Linked DNA regions of Homo sapiens: region 2 is linked to region 1. Evidence: fine-mapped expression QTL. Tissue or cell type: tibial nerve. Region 1 holds a variant in brackets; the other region holds the start of a gene. All regions are shown on one strand. Distances are from middle to middle.

Region 1 (5,304 bases):
ATAGATGTTAACAATCACATTGTAAAAGAACATGCAATGACATGGGAAAAAGTTGATGATACATTTTTAAGTGGGAAAAGCTGTTTTCCATATTTGGAAAAGCCCACATATGAAAAAAAAGAGAGATTTGTTATTATTCATACGTGCATTCTGCACCGGACTGTCTGCACCCCCGCCAGGTACCCCCTCCCACTCTCACCCTGCCCAGCACTGGAGCCCATCCTCATACCCCAGTCAATTCAGGGCAGTTGTCCCTATGTCTCTGGATTGAAGTGCTGCATATTTTAACAAAGAAAAGATAACTAGGCTGCAGGGTGGAATTCTATGCCCAAAGCGTCATTGTGTTTCTCCTCAAGTCATTCCAGGAGTACTTTCTGGATAAGACCGATTCTTAGGGAGTGTTGACTATTGGAAACAGTTGGGTAAAGCTCATAGGAAGAATATTCCGGATACTTGCTGCCACTTAAGAGTAGGTATGGCGGAGAGGATGGGTCCCCCAAATGTGTGGGATTCTGGAAAGTGCCTGCAGGGAGGTTGTCCTGCTCCTTGGACATGGAAGGTAGGCCAGCACCCCTGCCCCCTGGGGTCACCAGTTTTACATTGCTAGCAGTTAAGCCCCAGGATGATTCAGAAGCCCCACTGAGATCTTCTTGGCTTTCTGTCCTGTGCTTCACCCCAGCTCTCTATCCATGTTCAGGCAAAGCCCAGAGCTGACTGCTTAGAAAAATATTTAATTGAGATTCCTCCTACAGTGCCTATTTCTGTCTCGATAAGGCCTTGGCATGCCATGGGTGGCTAAATATATTGGCTGTTTCCTCTCCAATGCCAACCTAGTTTTTTAAATGTTCCCAAGTGTGTCTGCCCAGCTTTCCCCTGAGAGAGAATTTACAGCATTAGCCCTCTGTGACCTAGAAGAAAAAACAAAACAAAACATAGAAGATGTTAACTTACTTACAGAAGAGAAACCAGGAAATTATACATTTGTGCAGAAGTGTCTTCATTCATGCATTCATTCATTCATTCATTCAGGTCTCTCAAACTCCTCCTGAGTTACTGGCACTGTGCTTAAACATGGGCCACATAGATTGATGGAATTAGACATGATCCCTGTCCTCAAGGTGTTCATAGTCTAGATCTACCTGCAGTACTAAGTGTTAAGTATGGAAGATGCACAAAACAGAGCTGCGAGAAGGGTCTGCAGTGGCCTAGAGGAGGATACTCAGGGAATATTTTCCTAAATAGCAGCATCTCTACCTGTTCTAGTACTTAGGAATTGAGAGAATGGGGAAAGCTAAATAAAGAAATAGCAAGAATATAAAGGCAGATGCCATTTATGAGCATGTTACGTTAGTTTGGGGGCAACAGCTTGGGCATTTTTCCTAGTAGAATTCTTCTGTTGGATGTGATATATGATTCTAAAGTCTTAAGTGCAATTAGTTTTTCTTCTGTATGCTTTTTTTTAAAAATAAAATTTACTAGTGCAGACAAGTGTTTCATAAACATTTTTAGAGTCATAGAACTCTTTTTGCAAACAAAACATCCCAATATTTAAGACCAATAACATCAGAGATGCTGTGGTTGAGGCAGGGGTGGGAGATGCGGAACCAGTTCTGGCCTCCTCCAATCTCTGACCAAGACACCCCAGTGGGATTCCAGGGCTCACTGAGACTGCAGTTGAAACCTACATGTTGAGATGGTGCTTCACACTTCCCAGGCTTTAAGCTAGCACCTCAGTGATCTCTCTTCACCTCCCTTTGGGCCTGTGACTGTTTCCTGCCTCCAGGAGGAGTCTGCAGTTGCTGCTTGATAGCTCTGATGGAGGCTTGTAGCAGGTGGTCTTGGAATGCTTGGGATCACCAAGCCTTGGGAGTAGTCAAGTCGTGGTTCCTTTGATGGAAAAAAGTGGGCTATCATCTGAAAGCAGGAGTGTTGGCAGCCAAGAGGATGAGCACAGTCCGGTGGCACATTACAAATGACTCTGGCCCCATTACTCATTAGGTCCCCCTGGAAGATGTTCTAGGGTGAACAGTCCTCATTTTCCCATCTCCATGGCTGGATAACCTCTCAGTTCATAGATCCCTGCAGACACTTCCTTTCAACATGCCAAGGCCTTTAACATCTCAAATGGGCTTTACTCTTTTCAATGTCAAGTAAGGCAAAGCAGCGAATGGTCTTTCCATTTTATAGGTGGGGAAACTGAGGCCTAGTGTAGTTGGCTCTTTCACAAAAGAATACCGAGACTCACTGTTCAGACTGTGATTGTTCTCTCACACTTTCTCATACTCCTGAGAAGTTCTTTCTGTTCTCCAGCTTTTATCCATTTCATTGATGTAAACCATTTCCTCTGTGTTTGTTTCTTCAAATTGTCCAGAAAAATGTGAAGTTGGACTTCTTTCCCTTCTTAACATTGCATAGAAGGCAGTGGAAGGCAGGGGGTCTGAATGAATGACCCAC[A/G]GGAGTTGTGGTGGATTACCATCTCTGTTAAAAACAATTCTGCTTTGGTAATCTTGGCAGACGGCTGAACAGTGGACATGATGTTCTTAGAGGGAGGGTGATTTCAGTCCTGGGGGTTCTGTAATTCCCCATATCTTAACATAGGGGTTGGACACAAGGCTTTCCTTTGGGTCTGGGCTCAGCCTTTTCTAGCAGCTTTGCCACTGGTCTGGAACCTTTTAGGGCATTCCAAACCCCCACACCTCTCCCCCCGCCATGGGGCTGGCCTGCAGTCAAGCATCTTCACACTCTGCCGCTTCCATCTGGAACTCCCTTTCTCGATTCCTGATGTTGGCTGCCTCGGGGCCTGCTTGCTATTCTGGTGCCCAGAAGCCAACACAACTTTGCCAGCCAAAGCCATGCTGAACTGCATCAGCAGAGAAGGGTGGGCTTCCTTGGAGTCAGAATGCATGCGCAGGAGGACCCATCCATGGTACCTATGACGATTTATCAAAGAGTTCCTTAAAGAAAGTGAAGAGACGAATCACAGAAGATATTTGGAATATACATAATCCAAGAACAGTATTCTTAAGAGCATCTAAAGAATATCTCCAAGTTACCTTTGGGCCCAATAATTTTAATATTCTCTAAGGTATTGACTCCATCTAAGACATGAGACTTTGCCTGGTTTGGAGTCAGATCCTTTCTAGAAACTCTTATTCTCCTTCAAAAAAGGTGGGAGAACCTGAACACAACATTCGGGAACCACTAACTGATGGCTTCAGGAATCCAACTAACACTCAGGAAACACAGGGGTCGAACACACCTCTGGCTTCCTCGGGACAGCTTGCATAATCTCCTCCTTCCAGGCACACCTAGCTATGAATTCAGCTGAGTTTTTAAGAAACATGAATCTGGAATACAGTGAGAGGAGTGGGTATAATGGAATAGAAGGGGAAGCAGGCCCTCCCGCTAAGGGGTACACACTCTCCAGAGGACACACACACGCAGCGCTCTTGTTCAGGCATCTCACATAAACTTGTCCAAAATGGACCAAATGGCTCTTTCTTCTTCAGGCAACTCCCTTTTCTAACTTCTGGGCCTCCAGTGTTGTTGGCATATTTTGCTTGCTTTCCTGACGCAAACCAAGAGGCATCTGTGATTCCTCTCCCCTTTTATCCGCTGCATCTGAGCAGTGGGTGGACTCCACCACCCTCCCTCTTTTGTGGATGCCCCTCCCACTGGCTCCTCCTTCTCCCACTGGTTGCCTCTTGTCTGGGGAGCGGGGAGGCCTTTAGCATTCCATTCCATAAAGCTCTGATCTTACGGTGTCAAAGCTGACAATGAATACCATTTCAAATGAAATCATGGCCACCTGCCTCTGCCTGGCTTTCCAGTGTCCCCACGCCATGACGCTGGCCCTTCCCTGTCACATCATCCCCACCTTTTAGGGTCAGTCTTTTCTGATCTTCCTATGCTCCCACAAGCATGGGAATCTATTTCTCCCTCCACACCTGAGCCTGAAGTGCCAGCCTCCCCACCCTTCACGGCCATCTCTGTGCAGCCTTCCTGATAGGCTTCCCAGAAGCCCTGCTGATAGGGGCTATCTCCTTTATGCCCTGACTGTTTCCGTGTTGACTATTTCCAACCTAGCACCAATTCTGCAGTTTATTATATACTGCTAAATGTTATCTTTCCACAGGTTGTGATCTTTTTGATGGTAAGGGTCTGGTAATGCCTGTTTGCAGCCTCTCTTAACTGCACACAATGCAAGGATGTGCGTATGGGAGAAATTAACATTTGTTGAGAGCTTTAAGACTTTATCTCATTGAATTCTTTCAACCCTAAGAGTTGGATATTTTTTGTCTCTATTTTATAGATGAGGAAACTGAAGCTTGGAGAAATAGTTTTGCATACACAGCCACTAAGTCGCTGAGTTAGGATTTGAAAGTAGGGCTGCTTATGGTGAAGCATCTTTCACTATTCCATGCCTCTATTCCAAAGTGGGGTGTAGGCTGCTCATAAATTGCATTGAATCAGAAAAAAAATTAGACACACAAAGCTGATATATGTTTAATATCATTGCTAGCACTGAACTCATACATGTTTTTTTATATCACAACCTGAAAGCTTAAATCTCAGACCGATCTACTCTAACACTCTTTTTTCTTTTTTAAAGAAGCTAAGAGCAAGTTTTAAGATTGATGTCTCTTTGAAAATGTCTTATTTATTTTTCTGCAAGCGTGGTTCATCTAAAAATTTTGCTTGGTAGGAAGAGGCCTAGGGGTGTGTGTGTTGTCTTTGAACTGGGTGACCAGGGAGGAGGTTGTGATAGCTGGTAATATGTCTCTTTCAAGGCTGGTGCTGCAGCAGAAAATGTTCCTGCCCATACATAGGATTAGATTGTAATCAAAGGAACAGGGTCATGAAACAAACTTTTGAAATGGAACTCAGATGTTGTAAATACATATACCTTGGCCAGGCTCCCAGACGTGAGAACCTCCCCCATGATCCCAAAGAAAAATATTCCATTGTATTAGATTACATTAGACGAGAGAGAAATAGAACACTCAAGCATGGATGAGGAGAATATATAAAGGAAAAAGGAAATAAAGAGGAATAGGCCAGGCACCGTGGCTCACACCTATAATCCCAGCACTTTGGGAGGCCGAGGTGGGAGAATCACATGAGCCCAGAAGTTCAAGACCAGCCTGGGCAACATGGTAAACCCCATCTCTACCAAAAATACAAAAAATTAGCCAGGCGTGGTGTGCAAAAACATAGCACTTAAGTTTCACAGGGGCAGGGCTTTTGTTTGTTTTTCTCTTTATTGCAAGTGTCTATAACAGTCCTAGATACATAGTTGGTATT
Region 2 (4,000 bases), 84 kb after region 1:
ACTCTGTAGGAGCTCAGTGGGTGGGACCAACAGAAACACGTTACAAAGCAGGCAGGAGACACCAGGGAGAATGAAGGTGGAATGACCATGATCCTTCCTGTGTCTTATTTTTATTTTTTTTAGATTGGCACTGTACATAGTGCTTTTTACTTCTTTTTTTTTTTTTTTTCAGATCGGCACCCTACATAGTGCTAACGATTTTTTTTTTTTTTTACTTTTTTTTCAGATCGGCACTCTACATAGTGCTAATGATTTCCAGAAGTCCAGCTCTGTCCATCTCTTCCTCTGCTCAAACATGGATGCTGTATCCTTACTGCCCAGCATATTAAGCCAAAGCGCCACAGTCAACTGGATTTCCTGCCTCCCCTGCTGCTCTCTGCAAGCATCCTGCACTCTGGCTGAAGTGGACTTTCTGATCCCCAAACTCATTTTCCCATTTCTCTCTCTCTCTCTCTCTCTCTCTCTCTCTCTCTCTCTCTCTGTGTGTGTGTGTGTGTGTGTGTGTGTGTGTTTTGAGACTGATTCTTACTCTGTCACCCAGGCTGGAGTGCAGTGGTGCGATCTTGGCTCACTGCAACTTCCACCTCCTGGGTTCAAGCGATTCTCCTGCCTCAGCCTCCCAAGTTGCTGGGACTACAGGCGTGCATCACCGTGCCTGGCTATTTTTTGTATTTTTAGTAGAGATGGGATTTCACCATGTTGGCCACGGTTGGCCAGGCTGGTCTTGAACTCCTGATCTCAGGTGATCCACCTGCCTCGGCCTCCCAAAGTGCTGGAATTACAGGTGTGAGCCACCGCGCCCGGCCCCATTTCTGTGTTTTTGCTTCAGGTGGTCCCTCTGCCTGTGCCCTTGCTAACCGCCCATTTCCTCTGGTAGAATTACAAGCTTCAATTTCAGCTCCGACTCACCCAAGAAACTCCCCTTTCCTCAACCACCACATCACCTCTCTACCAAAATATTTCTTTTCTTCAAAGCCTCTGATAAACATTTATTTATTTATTTTTTATCTTACCAAAGTCTTTCCCGATAACTCTTCCCAGCTTGGCGTCTTAAGACCAGGTACTTGCCTTCCTGGAGGCATCTAGGTCACCTTCAGAGCCAGGTGGCCATTGGGTTAACTAGCTGTTGAACTGAATCAAACAGGCTCTGAGCCTTGAAGTCAGAAAGAGCCAGAGTGGAGGGGTCTGGGGGGAAGAGGGGCGCTGAGGTATAGGGAGATGAAACCTGCGGTGGAGGCAGCTTAATGGTCCACCTGTCACCCAAGGAATCTCTCTGACAGGGGTCTTTGTTAGGGTCACACCCCAGGAGATGGTTGATTATGGCTGAGTCCAGCCTGGAATGATGGGGGTTGGGGGCAGCTTGGGTAGATGACTCAGTAAATCAAACAGAACAATGAAAGGAGGTCATGCTTGTCCATCTGCATTATTGAAGACAGCCATAAATGGCCTTACCCCAGAGCGGGTCTGTCACACCTGGAGAGCTGATCTGACCTCTCCAAGACCCCTGCAACTGAGTGTTCTGGGATCTGTCCTGCAACAAGTGCCTCGAGATTTGTAGGTGGGGGCCCAGGGTGCTAAGGGATTATTTTAGCGGGCGGAGAAGGGAGGGGGTCTGCAGACGAAGGGGGCAGGTTTTGCGGGGCACTTAGGGTTCTCATAGGTTGTAGTCACGAGCTCCCAGGTTTGGAAAACTGCAATAGTCACTAAGACCATTCGGGGCTGTTTGGGTCTAGCTTGGTCTAGACGGGTCTGAAACTCCGCAGGACCCACCCAACAAGAAGTCATTGTTCCAAGCCACGTGTCAGTGGTGGGTGATACCCCAGGATGGAAGGAGTTGGTATGAGCCGACTGAAATCTACTTGAAGGTCAAAACGGAGCCTTATGTCTTTTGTGTTCCCCAGCGGTTAGCCCAGTGCCGGCCACAGGGGAAGCGCGCAAACGAAGTCCTCGCGAACTGAACTGAGAGCAGACAAAAGCACGCGCTCTTCTCCACCGCCACGCCGGTCCTACCCAAACCCGCGAGTTATCCGTATTCTCCTTCAGGAGTCATAGTCAGGCCAGAAGAGTGCGGAGGGACGGGGCCCGGGAAGAGCAGGGAACCCCCAGAGCCCGCAGCCAACGCGGAGGTGGGCGAGCGGGCGTGCGCGCACTCACTTGCCGGCGCGAGGGAGTGTCGGGGGGGAAGGGAGTGGTCTCCAAAAGGGGGAGGGGAGAAGGCAGGGGGCGGGGAGAAGCCGGCCCTTTAGGACCCGGCTGCGGCGGCGAGGGAGGAGGAAGAAGCGGAGGAGGCGGCTCCCGCGCTCGCAGGGCCGTGCCACCTGCCCGCCCGCCCGCTCGCTCGCTCGCCCGCCGCGCCGCGCTGCCGACCGCCAGCATGCTGCCGAGAGTGGGCTGCCCCGCGCTGCCGCTGCCGCCGCCGCCGCTGCTGCCGCTGCTGCTGCTGCTACTGGGCGCGAGTGGCGGCGGCGGCGGGGCGCGCGCGGAGGTGCTGTTCCGCTGCCCGCCCTGCACACCCGAGCGCCTGGCCGCCTGCGGGCCCCCGCCGGTTGCGCCGCCCGCCGCGGTGGCCGCAGTGGCCGGAGGCGCCCGCATGCCATGCGCGGAGCTCGTCCGGGAGCCGGGCTGCGGCTGCTGCTCGGTGTGCGCCCGGCTGGAGGGCGAGGCGTGCGGCGTCTACACCCCGCGCTGCGGCCAGGGGCTGCGCTGCTATCCCCACCCGGGCTCCGAGCTGCCCCTGCAGGCGCTGGTCATGGGCGAGGGCACTTGTGAGAAGCGCCGGGACGCCGAGTATGGCGCCAGCCCGGAGCAGGTTGCAGGTAACGCGGTCTGGAACAAGTAGTTGGGAGAAACTTGGAGGGCAGCGGAGAAGCCCGACGGGCGGCTGGACCTTACGGACGGTTTTAGGGGCGGCAGAGCCGAGACCTTGGACCAAATCAAGGGGGACTGTTGCTAGCGGGACGCGGAAGTCAGGCCCGGGGAGGGGAACTGGAGTTAGAGCAAGTGGAAGAGCCCTGGCGACTCATTTGGTGGGGATGAATGGGGAGAGGAAAGGCATCCCTGCTGCCATAGTTTTACCCGCGTGGAACGGACCCAGACTTCTATTCTGGAGGAGGGATTTGCTGAGAAGGGGGCCGGTGGTCAGATCCATGGGAGTAGGAACTCGAATCTTATTTGGGGCACTGCTTGAGGACCCAAGGGTCCTGGTGGGATCGCTGCTGGGAGGCGGAGGCTGCGGGGTGCCAGTGACACCAGGAACCTTGGAAGAGGAGAGGGAGCTAGGAGGAGGCACCGGCGTCCCAAGGGGCCCTTCCTTCTACTGGGGTTGTGAGTTGGAAAGAAAGGACTTGGTACTTTGTAGGATGAGTCGCTTAGGAGAAAAATGAAAACCACCACTACTATTTCTCCATAGGGAACGAGCAGGGCTCTTGCTACCACGTTGAATGGAAAAATAAAAGGGAGGCATTTGGTAGGCGAGGGGTCTCCTAGCAGCTGAATCAATGTAACTTAAGCCCGATCGCCGGCTGCATTCCCTGGACGGGGGCAGCCAGGCTGTGCGGTTTCGCATCTGGGCCCCAGATCGAAAGGCAGGAGAGATGCGTTGCCACCCCCCACCCCCGCCCCTATCTTAAATTGAGGGACCCTTTCCTGTAGGATAGAATGAGGACCCGATATTCTTTGTTCAGGGGCCCTCATCCCTCCCAAAAAGTTATTTGAGGGACACAACCAGGCTCTAAGGAGGTTACTTTTTTTTTTTTTTAATTACGAAAGCCTCCTGCCCCAGTGGTCGGGAGGAAGCTGTAATTATTTTCTTTCCTCTTGGAGACAGTGGTGAAATGTGTCCACTGCCTGCTGCTGTTGTTGAAAAAGCAAGTGAGTCTTAAGTTTCTCAAACTTAAAAAGAAAAAGTGAAAAGAAGAATGCTTGCTTTTTAGCTTCTGAGGTCTTCGTAAGCCCCCCACCCCATGCACCAACCCGCCTCCCTTCTCCTGGTCGGCTATTG

What was found. PIP is the estimated chance that this variant, and not a neighbour inherited with it, causes the effect.
Region 2: IGFBP2 starts here. The variant in region 1 is fine-mapped to the expression of IGFBP2 in tibial nerve (GTEx, PIP 0.92).

What each region holds. Positions count from the first base shown.
Region 1 is chr2:216,546,491-216,551,794 of GRCh38, forward strand. No RefSeq gene overlaps it. Among named protein-coding and RNA genes, the nearest start is that of RPL37A, 50 kb to the left of the region's middle. The variant A/G (reference allele first, on the strand shown) is at 2,455.
Region 2 is chr2:216,631,150-216,635,149 of GRCh38, forward strand. IGFBP2 (insulin like growth factor binding protein 2) reads left to right here and starts at 2,271. Exons shown (of 4, transcript NM_000597.3): 1 at 2,271-2,816. The coding sequence starts at 2,375.